Linked DNA regions of Homo sapiens. The protein of the gene in region 4 purifies or fractionates together with the protein of the main gene of each other region. This does not show direct contact. Each region holds a gene or a part of one and is shown on either strand. Other genes may lie near its edges.

Region 1 (5,292 bases), on a different chromosome or scaffold from region 4:
GTTCCATTCAAAGGCTATTGAACACGTTTAATTTCCTTGAGGGAGAGTATTTTGTCATGCGGGGAGAATTCTTAGAAGGGAAAGCCTGCAGGTAGCAATACAGACATCTCTGACAGAGAAAAATAAACAGCAGGATCAAGCTGAGACCAGATTTATTAACCATTTTTGATAAAATATTTGGAAGAGGTACACAGCCTGGTGATTTGCCCTCTGAAAAATGCCAAGGTAATAGTCATAAATATCGGAAATAGTTTATAAGTTTAGGCGGATAAATAGAAAGTTGGTTGATACATTTGAATGTAGTCAAATGCAAGAAAATTGGCTGATAAATTTGTATTTAGTCAAATGCAAAAAGTTGTTTACAGAAAAATGATTTATAGAGGTTTGCTTCTGAGCTTAGTGATGATGCAACAAAGGGCAAATAGACAGCGTTCATTGCAGACATCAGCCTGGTGATCTATTTGGGATCAAGGATCTCAACAAAGACCTGGTCATCATCACAATAAAATTTCACATCCTCCCACCTCCAAGGTAAGCAGCATTATGCCCACTAGCTTGTGGGATGTGGAACAGAGTTCTAGCTTCAGCTCAAGGATTGAGTAAAATTGGTAAAATTGGAGAAGGCTCAGGGAAGGGCAGCTAAATTAATCAAGAGAGTAGAGAAGCTTTTGTATTAGGTTAGATAAAAATAGTGAGACGTTCTCAGAGAAAAGATTCAAGAGGACCTCTTAAAAGTAGGGTTATCCTTACTGTATCCAAAATAAATTACATTTTCTCAGATTTCTGGTGACTAAAGTATTTCTTTTGATTGCTTTGTCTTTCCTCTTTTTTTTTTCCCCCAGAAGACAGGGGTCATAGGATGAGGATGAAAGACAGAGGGCTAGGTGAAAAATACCAGGTCTGAACCAAAGAGAGGGCTAAACTTAGAGTAAAAAACATCCTGTTGGAAAACTGCAATATCAAAAGACAAACACCACCAACTCTGTGCAGGCTGAATGTGACAGTGAATATATTCTATGTGACAAAACGTAGGCCTAAAAGTCATCATAAAACCTTTCTGCAAGGTTTTCTAATAAGAGTTCTAAATCACAGAATGTTTCGTAGTGCCCAGGGCCTGGCTATGAAACTCTCTTAACCCTGTGAAATGTGAATAATAGTAGTAACCACTGTATTAACCAATATCTAATCAGCCAGTGAGAATAATGAAGATCAAAATTAGGGAAGGAAAATAACATTTATTGAACAATTATTGCATGCCAAGTATTCATGTAATGTTCACAGCAGCCTTGCAAAATAAATATTCCTTTGCAGAGTTCACAAATAAGAAAAGTGAGACATGTGGAGGCTAGTAATGGAGGTAAATAATGGAAGTGAGTAGAAAACTCCAAGCTGTCTTGGAGACAAAAAGAGGCCTTTTCAAATGGCCCTTTTTGGTCCTAATTATGCTAACTGTTCAGCAGAACATTTGTAGCTTAGATGCAGTCACTACCAGCCCTCTCTTCCAAATCATCTCTTTGGGTTTTGCTTCAGTGTGAAACTATCACTATAAATGAGTATTTGTTTGTCTTCACCCACCTCCAGCTGATCACTGCTCCCAAGGCTGAGAACAATATGTATGTGCAACAACGTGATGAATATCTGGAAAGTTTCTGCAAGATGGCTACCAGGAAAATCTCTGTGATCACCATCTTCGGCCCTGTCAACAACAGCACCATGAAAATCGACCACTTTCAGCTAGGTTCTCTTAAACATTTTAATTATATTATTGTTTTTCTCATATCTAAGGTGGGACAAACTTTATGGTAGAGGTACATGGGGGATCCAAAAGAAAATGAAGATGTTCAGAGGGCTCTTTGGTTGTGATAACACAGGTCAGTTTGCCTGCTTATTTAAATAGCCATTCCAGGATGGTTCTCGTTTAAGTTTTAAGCACTGTAAAAAAGAAAAATACGCAAACACTCTATTGTCTGAAAGTCAGTAAGGTGGAAGAAAATGGGAAAAGTAACACAGTGTGGGAGAGAATCAGAGAGGCATTCAGACACTTTTTCTGGGTACTGAGTCTTCTCGCCTGTGAGCAGCCCCGTCTGATCTTCCTGCAGACTCTCCGCTGCAGGTGACTCATCACAGATGGGACTTGCCAGACTCTCGGAAGTACTTGACTCTGGCAAGCCTGAGGAAGGAATTAACCAGAACTGAGAGAAGCTGTTAAGATAAATGAAAAGTCACTGAAAATATGGACTGAACTGCACCCAAGTCCTTTTGGAGAGTAGAAGAATTTGGCTGAATTTAGAGTTTTCGCAATTTTACATATGAATGGTGCATGTGAGACTCATGAGGCGTACAGCCCAGTGTTGGACAGCTGAGATCTAACTCATTGCAGTTCTCCTGGGAACGTTGCAAGATTTACTGTGATTAGTTAAGCCTCATAGTCAGAAGCCCAAAATATGACCCACCCAGTTTATTTCATAATTATTGCATCTCTAGGGCTTTATTTTTTAAAAAGCTTTTTTTCTTATATGCACTTTCTACTGTTTTGTTGTTGTTCATGGTTTAACTACAAAAAAAAAAAACCTTAGAGTAATCCTTTATATTCCATCGTTTGCATATTCTGCATAGTTTCCGTAAAATATATTTCATCTAAAAGCACTTGAAAGAATATAAAATATATTTAGTAATATATAACTAATTATTTGTTAGTCAACATTTAACTTCAATACACATAACATTATCACACAGATTTTTCTGACATACGATCTTGGTGTAATTGAAGACATACTAGTTATATTATGTCACGATAATGTCAACTTGATTTGAATATGGTCTAGCCTTCTAAATCATATTTTTTTTATTGTGGTAAGTACACTTAACGTGAAATCTTCCCTCTTAATACATTTTTAAGTGCACAATACAGTATTGATAACTATAGGTACAATATTGTACGGCAGATCTCTAGAGCTGATTCAGGGTAAAGTATCAGTTATGCATTCTCTACTTTAAATAGCCCACCTTCCTCTGAGGTGGCTACAAAAGAAAAATAAATAGCATCTTTTCCAATGTCCCATCATAAATTATTGTGGATTGATGATTTATTTTTAGACATTTATCCTGCACTGTGTGTATAATTTAGGGGGAGAACAAGCAAAAAAGGAATTTTCTTAACCAAAACAACAATAATGATCATACAAACAAAAGACACAAAATGAATTCTGGAGACAGACAGATTTAAATCCAGGGTCACAATTTACTTGTTGTGTGACCTTGGGCAAGCTACTCCTAAGTCTTAGTTTAGAAGATAATCATATCTATTTCACAGGATTAAATAAGATAGTATACAGAAATGCCAGTCAGGTAATAGGCACTATTATGTGGTCATCCTCTGCATCACCATTTGATCTGGTAGTCATCTGGAAATCAATGAGCTGTCACACTTGTCACTAGAGCACCTATAATGGCAAAATACTTGTTATTGCTTTGTGCTGATTACAGAATGTTGACACAAGAACCCTCACAACAGCTCATCCAGATCAGGCTGCATTATTATTCTTGGTGATAAAACTGAAGCCCAAGAGACTAATACTACAAAGCCACGTATTTATTGGCTAACTAGGATTCAACCATTTGTTTCCTGGATTTTTCAAATAATAGCATGAGGGCAGTGAGCTTAATTACACTCCAGATGTCCAGAAAGGAAGTAAGTATTCAATCCAGCACAAAGACTGGTGCTGGCTAGTGATGAAAGCCCTCACAAACCAGGTGTTCCCAGTGTCAAATGTGTTACCTACCAACACTTTCACAAAGTGTTCTCATTCCTTATTTCAGAGAAGCTTGGAAAAATCATTACATCTTCCACCTCAACTTCTATATGGTCCCATTATAAGCATCTGGTACTGCCTTGGCAAATTTTTAGCATAATCCTACTGTTTTCTAGACATCTGGATTGAATATGAACTGTAGAGGGGCTGTGGGTCTTTTTTTTTTTTTTTTCTGCCTTATTGGAAATCAGGTATTATGATTTGGGCATTTTCCTCACTGAATGGTAGCCGGGACCTGATTTTGGGGTGGGAGATCTTTTATTTTGTTTCTCATCTAATTCCTGGAAGGCCTCTCTTTCCTTGTGTCATGTCCCAGTTTACCCTTATGGGAAAGGCTGTAGCACTGTGAGCCAAGACTGGGAGTCGGCCATGGGATAAAAAGAATTGGCATGAGCCATGGGCTCAGTGAACCAAAAAACTCCAGCCTTGACTGACTTTCAGCTGGAAATCTATCAGATGGCCTTACTTTTCCTTAAAAATAAATCAAGCTCTGCCTACTATTCCAGACTTTTACTGGGCCTTGAAAGCAGGGGCACACATCCAACTACAGTGTGGGCCGTACTCACCAGCTGGTCCATCTTGCTAAAAGTATTTGGACATCACTGATGAACCTACAAACGCCAAGAAACTTACCTTAAGATTTTAGGCTTTCATGTAAATAAAGTTATTTATGCTTGAGCAAATTCCAATGCCTATCTGGTTTTGTCAGCACAGAGTATATTGCATGTGGGGTTTAAAATGGCCTAACACATAAAGGCATTCTTTCTTGTTAGTGATATCTAAAATGTCAGTCTAGGATAGGAATGTTGGGTGTGTATGTTTAGTGAATGGATTACAGACAAATTTTGTCAGATAGGAAAAAGTTGCTGGCTAAAGGCACTTCATTGCAGAATGAAAAAAGAAGTGGGGGGAAATGCACAGCAAGCATGTTTCTTTCTTAGCAATATTTAGAGATGAAAAATATTTTAACATTGGCATTTTATCACCAAATTTTAAGAGCTAGAATACACAGGACATTTAATAGGGCAAGGGAAGTTTTTTGATAACTTCTTTCAAAGAAAGGAGAGTTTGAGGGTAATCAAGAGAGGTAGCAAAGTTCATGGAGGTGGAATATGGCAACAAGGAGAGAGAAAATGTTGATTTCTTACTATCTAATGACTTCATAAGTCAATTTTTAAAATGAGAATGGTACGCCAGGTGCAGTGGCTCATGCTTGTAATCCCAATACTTTGGGAGGCCGACGTAGGCTGATCACTTGAGGCCAGGAGTTTGGGAACAGCCTGGCCAATATGGTGAAATCCCATCTCTACTAAAAATACAAAAATTAGCTGGGCATGGTGGCAGATGCCTGTAATTCCAGCTATTTGGGGGGTTGAGGCAGGAGAATTTCTTGAACCTGGGAGGCAGAGGTTGCAGTGAGCCAAGATTATGCCAGTACACTCTAACCTGGGTGACAAAGTGACACTCTGTCTCAAAATAA
Region 2 (4,835 bases), about 190 Mb from region 4:
GGGTAAGCAGCCACTGCGTCCTGTGTACCTCGGAAAGTGCTGATGCCCCCCGCAGTGCTAGTGTGACGCACCCCCCAGTGCTGTTGACACCCCCCAGCACCATGTAACACACCGTGCATGCTAGTGACACCCTCCTGTGCCAGTGACACACACCCTGTGCCAGTGTGACACGTGTGCATCGTGCCCAGTCCAGAAGCAGCCAAAGAAACCTGGGTGCTGGAATGTGGCTTTTCTAAATTATATACGAAATTACTTAGATAAAATTGATCTGCCTTGAGGAGATCTTTGTGTATTGTTTCTCCAAGTCACCTTCTTTGCCCTCCACATGCCTGGCAGCAGTGCCATGGCTCCACACTCCAGGGTGTGTGGCCAGCGCCACTGAGGATGGCCAGGGCAGCACCTCCGTGTGTCGAGCCCGTTGGAGCCGGGCACTGGGTTGGGCACGTCCCACGGTGCTGCGCTTGGTCTTCACGTCTTCTTTCTGAGCTGGTCTCAGGGCTTGTTTATATTTATAGACAGGCGGCTGAGGCTCAGAGTTCAAGAGGCTTTTCGGGGCCATGGTTGGTATTCCCTGCCTCTGCAGCCCATGCCCTGCTCTACCCTCCTGCTCAGGATCCTATTTCCAAGTTATGTCACGTTGCTGCTTTGTCTAGAAATTAGTATTTTTAGTTCTTTTTTGTCTGTCTATGATGTTTGGCATGGATAAGCAGTGGCTAGCATAAGAATTTTTTGGCTTAGTTTTAAAACAAATTCTAATGGGAAATTTCTAGATGGTTCTAGTGGAAAGAGTTGGACTTAATAGTAGTTAATTTATTTTTGTTTATTTTCTTGTTTTTGTATTCTTTATTTTTTGTTTGATAATAGTAGTTCATTTAAACTTTGAGGCTCACTTGCTGGAGTGTGTAATTTGTCAGGGGGCTGTGACTTCACATCATGTAAGTTAGTGTTATTGATGTGCTTTTGCTTTATTCATTTAGAGATGGTTTCACTCTATCGCCCAGGCTGGAGTACAGTGGTGCAATCAGAGCTCACTGTAGCCTTGAACTCCTGGGCTCAGGCCATCCTTTCACCTCAGCTTCCCAAGTAGCAGGGACTACAGGCATGTACCACCATGTCCAGCTAGTTTTTAAAATTTTTCTGTAGAAATGGGATCTTGCTATGTTATCCAGGCTGGTCTCAAACTCTTGGGCTCAAGTGATTCTCCTGCCTCAGCGTCCCAAAGTGCTGGCATCACAGGTATGAGCCAAGTACCATTTACCAAGTGACAACTATGAAATACATGCTGGAAATAATAATCATAAATAAGCCAGTATATTTCATTTTCCAAATGCTATGATATAAATATATCACCTGATTTCCTCCTAACTCAATTCTCTCAGCAATCCTATAAGATGGGTACTATTATTATCCCCATTTTATAGATGAGGAAGTTGAGGCTTAAGGAGATTTAAATAATTTGCCTCACATGCTGCAACTAGTAAGTGGGAGAGCTAACAGGTCAATCTAGGTCTGACTCCAGGACCAAGTGGCAGTGAAGTTGGTTGGTCTTGTCCCCCCCCATCCAGGATCCTGGTGAACATGGACGACAACATTGTGAAGCATTACTCCAATGAGGACACCTTCCAGCTGCAGATTGAAGAAGCCGGGGGGTCTTACAAGCTCACCCTGACGGAGATCTAAAGGCCTGCGGGCCACAGCTCCCCAGGAGTTCAGTGCAGGTGTTTCTAGATCTTACGGTTTGGCAACTGCAGGTAACCCCAGTCAGCCATGTCGCCAGCACAGGTCTATGTCGAGGGAATGGGTTCCTTGCAGGTTGGAGGCGGGGCTGCATCTGGCTTGGTGGTAGCATTTAATCTATTGCATTGGTGTTTTTCAGATGAAAGAGAAATCCATATACCATTATGTTTGAATTTCCTGATATATACAGGATTTAAAGTGAAAACTTTATTCCAAGAGTTAACAGAGTCTCTGGGAAGCTTTAGGACATCTGCTACGTTATTTATCAAAATATTGGGATCTCTGCCTTGTGCCTACAGTGTCGTGGGCCTGCTCGCTAGCAGAAGTCAGAAAAGGCGATAGGCTTGGCTTTAAGGATTTCGTGCCCTTGCCTGAATTCAGTACAACTCCACTGCCTCACGTTAGCGGGAGCGCACCTGAAGAGTACGGGGGGAGCCCTCTCTCCCTTACCCTCTCACTCTCCACCAGATGTTTACTAAACAGGGCATGTTACTGAAATCTTCCTTTGCGACTTTCTCGGACATATCAACTGCCTTTCTCATGAAGAATTTTAATGGGTTACAGTATGAAATCAGTTAAGATAAAGCTGCATTGTATATAAGTGCAATATATTTTTGAAGGTCTGTAAATGTGTACATACATGTCTTATATAAATATATAATATATAAATATGGTGTCTGTGTACATATAGTGAAGATATGCAGTAAGAGCTACCTTAAAGACTTTCCCTAGACAAAGGTTAAGTTATTTTTTGATCGTGTATACCAAGCAGATAGAATACTGTGCTTAGTGGAACCCGCTAAAAACCTTTTTCTCTGTTTTTCCAAACACAGGCATTCTGTAGCATAGCAAAACCTTCTCAAATGACAGAGATTCTGTTTGCTGTTGAGAATGTTGTTATTTGGATTTCTGCACTGTTTAACAAATGAAGTAAAAGAAAAACACTACTGCAATCACGTCTTTTGTTATGCTAGTATCAGTCAGATGCACTTAGAGTGAAGAAACACTGTAATTACAGCACACAGATTGCAAGTATTGCGTACCAAGTGATACAACTCGAAATGCAGTTCTCATCTTCCTGTTTTGAGAAATGATTATTTTATCACGCATCAGAGCCTTCGTGCTTTGATTATCTTGTATGTTAACAATTCTAGAAAACATTCATGAATTCACAAAAATATGTTACTATGGCAGGGGAACATTTTGTACACATTTAAGTATATAAAAATACTAAAATATGTAATTTTATAACAAAGTCACGGGTATCTTTAGGTTCAGGGAACTAGACTAGGTCATTCGTGTAAATGGACTGGTAGTTACAGTCTTAGGTTAAAGTATTCTAATGAAGTATGGGAACTAAATTGCTGGTTTTCTAAGATAAGATATGGGATATGGGTCATATAACTTTTGTATTTTTTATGAAGTTGATTTTGTCTTGCGTGTTATTTTTAATTGTATCATTGAAGATGTATTTTAAACCAAAGGAATTAAATTTTATATGTCTATTTCGTAATATGTCATTTCCTGTTTTTCAATTTGACTTTGCACTGCTCAGTAAAACGTGAGAGCTGAAAAGCATCTCATTGCTAGCACTTTCTGCTTATTTCTTAATGTGTGCGCTTAGGTTGTTTTCTTCATGTTAACTTTTCCTTACTGATGCCTGAAATGATCCACGTAATTGTTAAGTCAGGGATCCCTGAATGATTTTCCAATTCTTACCAAAATTTAACCACTAAAGCTGAAGGTAAATGCTTTCATACCTAAAATCTTAGTATTCTTAGTGTTTAAAAGCCTAACAGAAAATACTTAGTTTAAAAATTTACCAATATTTAAATCATTAGAATCTCTAAAACAGGCGTCCTGAACATATTCCAGGGTAATCCAGGGCCTAAATATGATAGACACTAGGATATATTTTTAATGGATACAAGATCAGATTAATGACGTAAACTCCCTGATAGGGCTCCTGGGACATCTGCACTTTTCACAGTAACCCTCGGGCCAAAGTGGAGACTCTCCTGCAGCCTGGGTTCCCGTTCACTCAGTGCTTCCAGAGTCCAGCTCCACACAGGAAGCCTGGGGACCCTGCCAGCGCATCCTTTCTATGGGAGCCCTTCCTCACACCATGGGTCTCCTTCACCCCCTGGCTTCCCGGGACTTACCTTTGCCTCAAAACTCATCTCTTCCCGGGCGTCCCCAGGGCCATTACCTCTGGTTCCTCAGCCCAGCACCCACTCCCTGCTCTCACGGCTCCAAGTACTGACAGACACCTGCTGGCCCTCTTCTCAGCCTCTCGTTTCCTGGAGAGCAGGTTTTGGTGTCTTAGCTTTGGATCTCTGGCACCCAACCCAATGCTGGTTACATAGTTGATGCTCAGTGAATGATTCTGTAATGATAAAGCGACTAGTTTATCCTAGGAACTGCCTTCAAGTAACACAGTCACTTGCAAAACATCAGCAGGGAGCGTTTTTAGACATTACAGGCCCAGAAATCAGTCGGGGCTGGACTCGGACCAGTAGGCCACAGAGCAGGACCAGTAGGTGGAATTATCTGGGACTCAGGTGTGTGCCACTGTGCCTGGATTTCTGGCCTGGATCTTTGCAGTAACCCAACTGGACTCATCGTTTCCATCCCTGGGCCCCTTCGTTTTATTCCTAATCTAGGAGCCATGATGATTCTTCTAAAATATAAATTAGGACTCTGCTCAGAACCCTGCAGTAGCTCTCCGCTTCACTCATAATGTAGACGGGATCTGTCCTCTGGCCACTGACCTCAAATTACACCATAGCTGAAGGTCCTGCAGAGTTAGGCCTGCTGAGGTTACGCGATGTCGAGAGCAAATGTCGGCATTCCGGTAATAAATGCCTTTGACTCTTAGTTTTCCGTTGCTGAAAGTCATGTTGGAGACGTTTGCCCAATCTTGGTCATGTTTCCAAGAAGAAAGACTCGTTTTATGAGCCTCATGGGATATTGATGGTATTAATAACAAGATGAGTTGAAGGCTGAGCATCAGGATTGCCATTCTTAGCAAATACTTCTTTCTCCCTATTAAAATTCATCAGAAGCAGTTCACTTGCAGCTGGCAGGGCCAACGATAC
Region 3 (5,292 bases), on a different chromosome or scaffold from region 4:
TCACTTGAACCTGGGAGGTGGAGGTTGCAGTGAGGCGAGATCACACCACTGCACTCCAGCCTGGGCGACAGAGCAAGACTGTCTCAAACAACAACAACAAAAAAGAATGGGGTTACTATTGCTTCGTGGGATTGTCATGGCTACTCAACTCACGGTTCAGTCCAACTATAAAACAGGCCTGGCCGGGCGCGGTGGCTCACGCCTGTAATCCCAGCACTTTAGGAGGCCAAGATGGGTGGGATCACAAGGTCAGGAGTTCGAGACCAGCCTGACTAACATGGAGAAACCCCATCTCTACTAAAAATACAAAATAATAATAATAATAATAATAATTAGCTGGGCGTGGTGGCACGCACCTGTAGTCCCAGCTACTCAGGAGGCTGAGGCAGGAGAATCACTTGAACCTGGGAGGCAGAGGTTGCAGTGAGCCAAGATTGTGTCACTGCACTCCAGCCTGGGTGACAGAGCAAGACTCTGTCTCAAAAAACAAACAAACAAACAACCAGGCCCACCCTTGAATGTGGGCACATGATTCAGTTCTGGCTTGCACTTATTTTTAATGCTTTCATGACCCTGTATCTTGTTTTTAAAGTTCGTCTGTTATTTCTGAGGGCAGGGATCATCCATCTTTTCAAAAGTCATCATGCACTGTTTTAGGCCCAAGGGTTTGAAGAGCCAAAGAGATGAACAGGAAATAGCAGAGTGATGCCGGACCTCAGTGTCTAGGTTCAAACCCACAGACCTTGGTTCAAATCCCAGCCCCAGCAACTCCCAGCTGTGTGGCCTTAGGCCAGTCATTTTCTACTTCTGAGTCTCAGTTTCCTTGCTTTTAAAATGCATGTTATCATAGCCTGTAGCATAGGACAGTTGTAGGGATTATGTAAAAGGCAGGTAATATACCCAGTACGTAGTTGGTGCTTAAAAATGGATGCTGTGATTATCTACTGTTATTATCTACTGTTATTCACCACCACTAGGAGGAAGAGGAGCCCAGAACGTAAGTGCATCCTTCTGTGAAAGACTCCAGTAGGAGATTATAGATGAAGAAAGAACTGGTTAATTCTTCCAGAGAAAAGCAGAGCAGATCAGGGAAGGCTTCATGGAAGAAGTGACACTAGAGAGGGACCTTGGAGGTTAAGGAGGAGTGCACAAAGCTGAGAAGGGAAGGAGGGTTGAGGGAAGGCACTGAGGCAGAGAAGGCATAGGCAAAAGCTGGGAGGTGGGAATGTGCAAGACAATATCTGTGTGGCCAGGGTGCAGGAAGGCAAGTGCAAGGTGCCAGGCAGGGATGTAAGCACAGGGGACCCTTTGGGGCATGGCAAGACAAATGCCCTTAGTGCAATTACCAGCCAGTGGTAAAAGTACAACAATGATTACTTATTACTGTTACGGTCTTGAGGGCCTTGGGAAGGTTGTTAGTCAATGGCTCCCCACTGCTAGAGGGGTCAAGACTGAACTTGCCACCACCTATGAGACCCTACAAGACCCTGGTCTCCACCACCACCTCCCCTCCCATCTTGCCTCCCTCTTTCCTCCACTCCCTCTGCTGCAGCTTTGTTGGCCACCTTTAATTTTCTTGGTCCCACCAGTCCATCGTTGCTCTAGGAGTTTTGCACACACTGTTCCCTGGAAGGCTTTACCATCTGCTCTTCACGTGGCTGAGTTGGTTTCCAAACTTTGGGAGCTGGCTTCCCTGATGACCCCCTGACCACTCCCACCTCTAACAATATCTGAGCCCCCAGTTCCTGCTTCTGCTTTCCTAGTTAGATTGCATGGCCTTTGTGTAACACCTACCACAGTTTGCAATTGTAGATGGATTTTTATGATTAGCTTTTTGATAGCTGCCTCCCTGGGTAGCTTAAGTCCCATGAAGACAGGGACCTAGTCTGTTTGATGCACAGTTTTGCACTCAGAGCCTAGAACCAGAGCCTGGCAGAAACAGGCCAACTGGTTGGGCGCACTGGCTCATGCCTGTAATCCCAGCACTTTGGGAGGCCCAGGCGGGTAGATCACTTGAGATCAGGAGTTTGAGACCATCCTGGCCAACATGATGAAACCCTGTCTCTATAAAAAATACAAAAATTATCTGGGCGTGGCGGTGCACACCTATAATCCCAGCTACTTGGGAGGCTGAGGCAGGAGAATTGCTTGCCCCAGGGAGGTGAAGGTTGCAGTGAGCCAGAACGTGCCACTACACTCCAGCCTGGGCAACAGAGTTAGATGTGTCTCAAAAAAAAAAAAAAAAAAAAAGGAAAATAGAAACAGGCCAACCAAAATGTCTGGGTTCAAGTAGAAGATGGTCAGGTTTATTTTTTTTTTTTATTTTGAAAAGATCCCTCTAACTTCCCACGACAGGGGGCTGGAAAGGAGTCAGGGAACCCAGCAGGGAGAGAGCTGAAGATGACCAGGTCAGAGATGATGGTGGCCTGGACCAGGACTGTGGCAGGGCAGAGAGAGGAAGGGTTAGACCAAGCTTATTTAACCTGCGGCCTGCAGGCCACATGTGGCTCAGGATGGCTTTGAATGTGGCCCAACACAAATTTGTGAACTTTCTTAAAACATTATGAGATTTTTTTTGCAATTGTTTTAAAGCTCATCCGCTATCGTTAGTGATAGTGTATTTTATGTGTAGCCCAAGACAATTCTTCCAGCGTGGGCCAGGGAAGCCAAAATATTGGGCACCCCTGAATTAGATGGTTGGATCTCAGCCCTGGCTGCACAGACGGACTACTTAGAGGGCATAGAAAAGATAGCAGTGCCGGAGTTCCAGCCCTAGAGATTCAGAATTAATTGGTCTGGGGTGGGGTCTAGGCTTTGAGATTTCTAAACATTTCTAATAACATATTTTATTTAAACAAATATACCTAAAATATTATAATTTCAATATGTAACCAATATAATGATATCAATGCATTGTTGACATTCTTTAAAATTTTTTTTACTATGTATTCAAAACCTAATATGTATTTTACACTTATGACACATCTCCATTTAGCCAAAATTCAAGTGTCCAATGGCCACATATGGCTACTGCCTATTATGTTGAATAGCAAGCTTCTAGAAGCTACTGGAAATGCCCTGGTTGATCACTCTTCCAAACAAACCCCTTAACATAGGTTGGCATATAAGAACCATTCAATGATTGAGAGAGACATCTGTGAATTCTTACAGAGAGTGCATCATGAAGGCAAATAATTCAGTCTTACATTCTGCGAAAAGTGTTGGGAATGATCTGTTTGAATAATCCATTAAGATAAATTTGGTGATGTCAAAACAGCTGGTGGTTGGCACTTGATAGCCTCAAATGCACATTCATGAAAATTCTTATAAATGTTCCCATCATGGAAGACAAAAGTCGGTTACCATCAGCAACTAACATTGGTGAGTAAGATGTAGCTGGTTCATGACTCATCATCAACTTAATTCTGGAAAAAACTGTGAATCACTTGGAGATATCGCCACCATTTTGACCTTGAATCTTCTGGAAGTTGACTTAGTTAAATATTATAAGAAACTAATTCAGTATATTGTCTTATTATTAAGAGGTTCAAGCTGCGTTTCTACAGTATCCCTCTCCTTTTTTTTTTTTTTTTTTTTTGAGATGGAGTCTGGCACCGTCACCCCGGCTGGAGTGCAATGGCATGATCTCGGCTCACTGCAACCTCTGGCTCCCGGGTTCAAGTAATTCTCCTGCCTCAGCCTTGCTAGTAGCTGGGATTACAGGCATGCGCCACCACGCCCGGCTAATTTTTGTATTTTTAGTAAAGACGGGGTTTCGTCATGTTGATCAGGCTGGTCTTGAACTCCTGACCTTGGGTAACCACCCACCTCAGCCTCCCAAAGTGCTGGGATTACAGGCATGGGCCACCATGCCCGGCTACAATATCCCTCTTCTTAGCCATTGCATGATCTGCAACCAGCATGTTTGGTGTTTCGAATGGGCACTGAAATTTGAAAAGTTTTCCCAGGCCTGGCATGGTGGCTCACGGCTGTAATCCTAGCACTTTAGGAGGCCCAGGCGGGAGGATCACTTGAGGCCAGGAGTTCAAGGCTGCAGTGAGCTATGATCACACTACTGTACACCAGGCTGGGGGACACAGCAAAACCCCATCTTTGGGAAAAAAAAAAAAAAAAAAAGCTCCCAGTAAGGTCTAAATGTGCAGCCAGGGATATCAAGAGAATCAAGGAAGATGCTGAAGTTTTTAGCTCTAACTTGGAAGCTTTTGTGCTTATCATTTGCCCAGGGTTCCTAGCTGGGTATGTAGTGAGTGTGTTAAGGACACTGATGAATTGATGAGCTCAAGAATCCACGGTCCTTTGACAACTCGGAGGCTGCCACGCCTCCCTACCCACCATCATCTCCTTCTTGCCCTTGTCAGATCTCAGACTTACACCTGCCCTGCCCCGCCTGGCTGATTCTCCAGCCCCAGCCGGAGAGCCACTCACCATTTTGATGGGCCGGAAGGACATGAGCCGATCACTGCGGTAGCTGCTCGACCATGTGTTCCAGCGAGGGTACTCGCCCTTCTCCAGGATGAACATCTCCCCGCGGAAGTTGGACTGCTCAAAGGCGACCCAGCTGGATACAAGAAGGACCATGAGGCAGACAGGAGACATATGGTTAGTAGAAGCCCCCACTCCCTACTTGCCTTTCTCTCTCCCCTGGCAAGGCAGCCCTGAGGACAGTAGGAAAGTCCAAAGGGGGCTGAACATGTCTGGGTTTGATTTTAGGCTCTGACACTTACAGGCTGTGTGACTATGGGCAAGTGACTTTACCTCTCTGAGCCTTTGTTTCTCATCTACACTCATATGCCTGTTTCCTTGGAGTTGGTGAAGGATTAAGTGAGATAAATGTGTGTGATTATCTGAGCACACTGTTTCTCTAGATGTAAGGTTCATACATGCTTCAAGTACTATCAGGACTTGGAGCCAAGGAACACATAGACATTTGAAACTTGACGCCAGCTAGGAGAAAGGCTCGTTTGATGTTAATGTGCCTTTAACACTTACTAATCTCTCCTTTTTTTCTTTTGTAACAAAGAGAGAAAAGACCACTAGCCCAGAACCTCCAGCAGACAATGGTGTAATAGCAACATAATAATACCACTTTTGTGTTTATTGTTAATTTTGTATGGATACCTTTTACTTATAGGAAATAATACTAGCCTTCCATTTGTAAAAAGTGGTGTCAGGGTTCTTTTAAAATGTGTTTATTTGTGGTTAGCAGGATCATTTTAAATGAAATATATTAAATGAACGACAGTCTCGGAGGTACAGGGGTAAGGGAAAAAT
Region 4 (5,292 bases):
TTTTCTTTTTTTTTTTTTTTTTTTGGAGACAGAGTCTCGCTCGTCACTCAGGCTGGAGTGCAGTGGTGTGATTTCTACTCACTGCAACCTTTGCCTCTGCCTCCTGGGGTTCAAGCGATTCTCCTGATTCAGCGTCCCGAATATCTGGGATTACAGGCGCATGCCACCATGCCTGGCTAATTTTTGTATTTTAAGTAGAGACGGGGTTTTGCTGTGTTGGCCAGGCTGGTATCAAACTCCTGACCTCAGGTGATCCACCAGCCTCGGCCTCCCAAAGTGCTGGGATTACAGGTGTGAGCCACCATGCCCAGCTTAACTGAGTTTCTTTAAAAAGCAGGAAAAAGCACTGTACATGTCTAAATATAAGGTGATACCAAGACGGGTGTTCACATGTTTTCCTAATGGGATATTTTGCATGCATAAAACTTGTAGACATGGATATAAAATAGTTAAATATCTACCCACATTTTAATGTATTAATTTATTTCCACATATACATTTTTAAAGTCACATATTACATGAAGTATTAATTTAGAAATACTACTTTTTTCCACCCATACAGTTCATTGACTTTATTCAGTGCTTCACATGTGATTTGGCATCAGTGTCTGTCATCACCAACTCCCCTGTTTTCAGTCATCTCACCCAGTTGTCCAGCACACATCATTTCTGCCTAAATTTTTTGAGACTCAGTATTTTTTTTTTTTTTATAAAACCATGATTCTGTCACGGTTAACTATATGGCAAACCACACATTCCATTTGTATAATAGGGAGACAGTTACTTTTTATATGTGTTCTATAGGTGAATATGTTTGATCTCTAGCTTCTTAAAGTTATCTTTAATGGACTTTTGCATAGTCATATCCAGCATTTGCAATTATAAGAAATAATTTCTAAATTTGTATGGATTTTTTGCTTTGAAAAAGAGATCTTGTTAGATTATATTACACCTATAAGCATTTAAAACTAATAATGTTGGGATTGCTTCAGCCCCATTTCTTTTCTCCAAACCAAACTTTGTTTTTCATGATAGAGTAATACAGAGACTTGGATAAGGATTTGGCTATGAGGTGACTGTCTTTCCTAAGACATTATTTTAGGGAAAGAAAAATACTTGCCTTATGCTTGTATATATATGATACTTACTTTTCCCTTTCAAAGTTATTCTTTTAATCTTTATTAAAGCACAATATAATGTAATAAAGCAGATAACCTGAGGAGAACTTCATTTAATGGCAAGTTGAGGTGATGTTATTAATTTTGTGATTTTTTTTCTTATCTGAGTGCATAGCACAATGTTTAAAATATCAATTTCTTAAAGAAACATTTCTATAAAAAAGATAGCAAGTGAGTCAATAAATGGATATACTATGTGGCAGACATTTTTAAATGAACATTTCCATAGCTGTATAATAATATTTATGTGAGCTTTTTACTAGAAGGTAGCACTTAATTTGGCAGGAGATGTTATCCTTGTCATTTCCTGATAACCATTAACTACATACTACAGAAGATAGGAACAGCTGGTGCTTTTATAACAAAGGTTGATTGGGGAGATGATAGAGCTTGGGGGATCTAAGAGGATTTAGAATGGTCAGTGGTTTCTGTCTTGGCTATTTAAAGAAATGCTTACTTTTAAGAATTTTAACTAATTGAAGTGGCAAATAATTTTACTTTCTTTCATATGTTCCATGAAAAAAATCTATTGTAACATTTAGCAGAAAAGAATATCACTTTTATGCTGGAGCTTCCATCGTTGTATGAAAAAATGTTTATATTATTAACATGCCAAAAGTATGATAATTCAGTTCTACATATATTAGCAATAAATTGTACCAATGAAAATAATGATTAATTATCACTTTTATCTCTTAACAGTGGAAAGAGTGGAACGAGAAAACCTTTCAGACTATTGTGTTCTGGGCCAGCGTCCAATGCATTTACCAAATATGAACCAGCTGGCATCCCTGGGGAAAACCAACGAACAGTCTCCTCACAGCCAAATTCACCACAGTACTCCAATCCGAAACCAAGTGCCCGCATTACAGCCCATCATGAGCCCTGGTCTTCTTTCTCCCCAGCTTAGTCCACAACTTGTAAGGCAACAAATAGCCATGGCCCATCTGATAAACCAACAGATTGCCGTTAGCCGGCTCCTGGCTCACCAGCATCCTCAAGCCATCAACCAGCAGTTCCTGAACCATCCACCCATCCCCAGAGCAGTTAAGCCAGAGCCAACCAACTCTTCCGTGGAAGTCTCTCCAGATATCTACCAGCAAGTCAGAGATGAGCTGAAGAGGGCCAGTGTGTCCCAAGCTGTCTTTGCAAGAGTGGCATTCAACCGCACACAGGTACAATTAGCATTAAACACTGTAATTAACAGTAATACTGGGGACAGAATTGAGATAGGTTATAATTATTTTTATCTCTTTAAAAAGCTTTATGGATCTCAGGACATAGAATTAGATTAATTAATAATCCTTAGTTAATGAAACGCTATTACCATTGATCCATGCATGACCATGATTAATTAACTAATTGATTAATTTTGATGAGGTAATGGACATCTTTGAACCCAACATGCAACTCAGGACCCCAAATGTTACTAATGACTTGGGTATGTACTCTCTCATCCTCTCCATTTACTGTTTGCAGATGTAACCCTGATCTTGAATTTTGTGATTATCAGTCTCTTGCCATTTTTTAAAACAAATTATAAAACTATGCATGCCCAGACAATCTATTTTTTTCCCTTGGTTTTGAACGTTATAAAAGAAATAAAATTATGTTTTATAATTTTATAAGTAAAGTTTTATTTAAAAATTTATAAAAATCCTTCAAAACATAAAAGTTAGATTTAAGATATTGATAAAATGATAATGGATAGTTTACTTTTATTTTTAATGTTTGAGAGAATTATATGCCAATTATAACACTAAATGTTGAAAATGTAAACAGTTAATTCACACGTCTTATTTTTATTGAGGGTGCTTATATGTAAGACATTCTTTTCTGCTAGTAGTTCTTAAACTGGAGTGTGCATCAGAATCACCTGGAGGGCTGTGAAACACAGACTGCTGGGCCTCATCCCATAGTTTCTGATTGAGTAAGTCTGAGGTTGGACTCAGAAATGGACATTTCTAACAAGATCCCAGGTGATTATGATGGTACTGATCCGGGGCCGCATGTTGAGAAAAACTTACCTAGCCCTTATATGAGTAAGAACAAAGCAGATGTGCATAATCTCGGGGAGCTAACGATCTAGTGGTGAAAACCAGGTAACCAGATAATTAGAGTAAAATGTGAAGTGTTATGAGTAATGTTGGAGAGTGTAAGCAATAGTTGTGGTGGAGGTTCATGGTGAGCTGGAGGTGAGGAATACTTCCAGGAGAATGAATATGGTAAGCCTTCAAGAAAACAGTAGATTAAAATTTCAGCACCCTCGTAAATGCAAGGCAGGAAGCTAAGCTCTATGTGGGTGCAAAGAGGAAAAAGATAATGGGCAAGCACATATGTAAACAACACTCTAGAGTATTAGGTTGTCAATGGGTTAGACCTTGAAGGATTAATAAAGTACAGCAGGCAAAGATGATGAAGAAGAAGATTATTATTTTAAGGTAAAGACATTCATAGGAAAGATGTTGAGTTAAAAAATGCAGGAATAATTTGAAGACATAAAACAACTGATTTCTGAGAAAAACCCTGTGAACGTACAGAATGTAGGAATGCTTTCATTTATCTGATACCTGTTCAGAGACACATGATAACACACGCTGTAGATGGACCTTACAAATGAAAGAAAGCATGCTGGATTGAAACCTCAATAATTTGGAAAATACAGGAATGTTTCCAAATTTAATGATTACTTCAGAAGTTAAGGGGCTGGGCACAGTGGCTCATGTCTGTAGTCCTAGCACTTTGGGAGGCCAAGGTGGGCGGATCACTTGAGGTCAGGAGTTCAAGACCAGCCTGGGCAAGATGGTAAAACACCATCTCTACTAAAACAGAACAAAACAAAAAAATTAGCTGGGCGTGGTGATGCGTGCCTGTAGTCTCAGCTACTCAGGAGGCTGAGGCAGAAGAATCCCTTGAACCCAGGAGGCGGAGGCTGCAGTGAGCCGAGATCATGCCACTGCACTCCAGCCTGAGTGAGAGTGAAACTCCATCTCAAAAAAAAAAAAAAAAAAAAAAAAGTTAAGTGAAAACTCTCACTGGGGAGAAATCTGATAAATGTTGGTAAATTGGATTGCCTGATGCAAGTTAACACTCAAAAAATGCACCTAAGTGAAATGTTATACCAGTTATAAATATTTTATGTTTATCAGTGGTTCATTGTTAAAGAGGGTCTGTTTACTTTTGGTTTCCACGTCTCTTGCAAGAAAACATTGAGGTAAGAATTTTGTAGATACTCTTTAAGCAATACTGCGTGAGTTAAATAAATAGCGTTTTTGTTAAGTCAGTTAATACATTTTTTCTCTCTTTATTCGAAAGTGTGTTGGATCTCTGGTTGAATTGAAATGTATTTCTATTATGTAGGCGATTTAAATTTTTATTAGTTTTGAAATTGTCGTATGATTAATGAGTCATTGAAAAATGAGTTTTTGTGCTGGGTGCGGTGGCTCACGCCTATAATCCCTGCACTTTGGGAGGCTGAGGGTGGCAGATCACGAGGTCAAGAGATCGAGACCATCCTGGCCAACATGGTGAAACCTCGTCTCCACTAAAAATACAAAAATTAGCTGGGCGTGGTGGCGTGTGCCTGTAATCCCAGCTACTTGGGAGGCTGAGGTAGGAGAATCACTTGAACCCAGGAGGTGGAGGGTGCAGTGAGCCGAGATTGCGCCACTGCACTCCAGCCTGGCAACAGAGCGAGACTCTGTCTCAAAAAAAAAAAAGAAAAAGAAAAAAAGAAAAATAAGTTTTTGTTAATGGTTGGGATTTTCTTACTGGCCTCGTGGCAAGTTTTGTTATCTCTTATTATATATATTCTACCTTTTTATGGGAAAAACTACTCTTTTTGGTGTAAAGATATTTTTTATATTTTCTTTGCTTGTAAAGAGTTATTATCAATTTGTAAGTATAAAAACTGCAAGTATAGTTGGTAGTTGATAAGAAAGGTAGATAATAAAACTTAAAAGGGATGGACACAGATTGAAAAAGGCCTTGAGTGCCAAGACAAGAGCTCTGAACTTTAACAGGCACTGGAAACCGTCATAGGTCTTAGGTAGGAATATGCTGTGCTCCCACCATCTTAATTAGGTCTTATGGAGGTTTGATAGCAAGAGGGTAG

Evidence for each region. The genes of interacting proteins can lie anywhere in the genome.
Region 1: the proteins of SATB2 (region 4) and CCDC80 purify together in Homo sapiens (co-immunoprecipitation; one large-scale study listed by IntAct). This does not show direct contact.
Region 2: the proteins of SATB2 (region 4) and GRHL1 purify together in Homo sapiens (co-immunoprecipitation; one large-scale study listed by IntAct). This does not show direct contact.
Region 3: the proteins of SATB2 (region 4) and CRYBB1 purify together in Homo sapiens (co-immunoprecipitation; one large-scale study listed by IntAct). This does not show direct contact.

What each region holds. Positions count from the first base shown.
Region 1 is NC_000003.12:112,626,559-112,631,850, reverse strand, and holds part of CCDC80 (coiled-coil domain-containing protein 80 precursor), read left to right. Parts: intron 1-1,581; coding exon 1,582-1,738; intron 1,739-5,292. UniProt on the Homo sapiens protein: Promotes cell adhesion and matrix assembly.
Region 2 is NC_000002.12:9,999,028-10,003,862, forward strand, and holds the end of GRHL1 (grainyhead-like protein 1 homolog), read left to right. Parts: coding exon 1-2; intron 3-1,565; coding exon 1,566-1,680; 3' UTR 1,681-3,250; downstream 3,251-4,835. UniProt on the Homo sapiens protein: Transcription factor involved in epithelial development. Binds directly to the consensus DNA sequence 5'-AACCGGTT-3'.
Region 3 is NC_000022.11:26,603,443-26,608,734, forward strand, and holds part of CRYBB1 (beta-crystallin B1), read right to left. Parts: intron 4,621-5,292; coding exon of another isoform or gene 4,618-4,620; exon of another isoform or gene 4,580-4,617; coding exon 4,447-4,579; exon of another isoform or gene 4,380-4,446; intron 1-4,379. Other genes in the region: CRYBA4 (beta-crystallin A4), read left to right, coding at 4,618-4,620. UniProt on the Homo sapiens protein: Crystallins are the dominant structural components of the vertebrate eye lens.
Region 4 is NC_000002.12:199,345,762-199,351,053, reverse strand, and holds part of SATB2 (DNA-binding protein SATB2), read left to right. Parts: intron 1-1,880; coding exon 1,881-2,353; intron 2,354-5,292. UniProt on the Homo sapiens protein: Binds to DNA, at nuclear matrix- or scaffold-associated regions. Thought to recognize the sugar-phosphate structure of double-stranded DNA.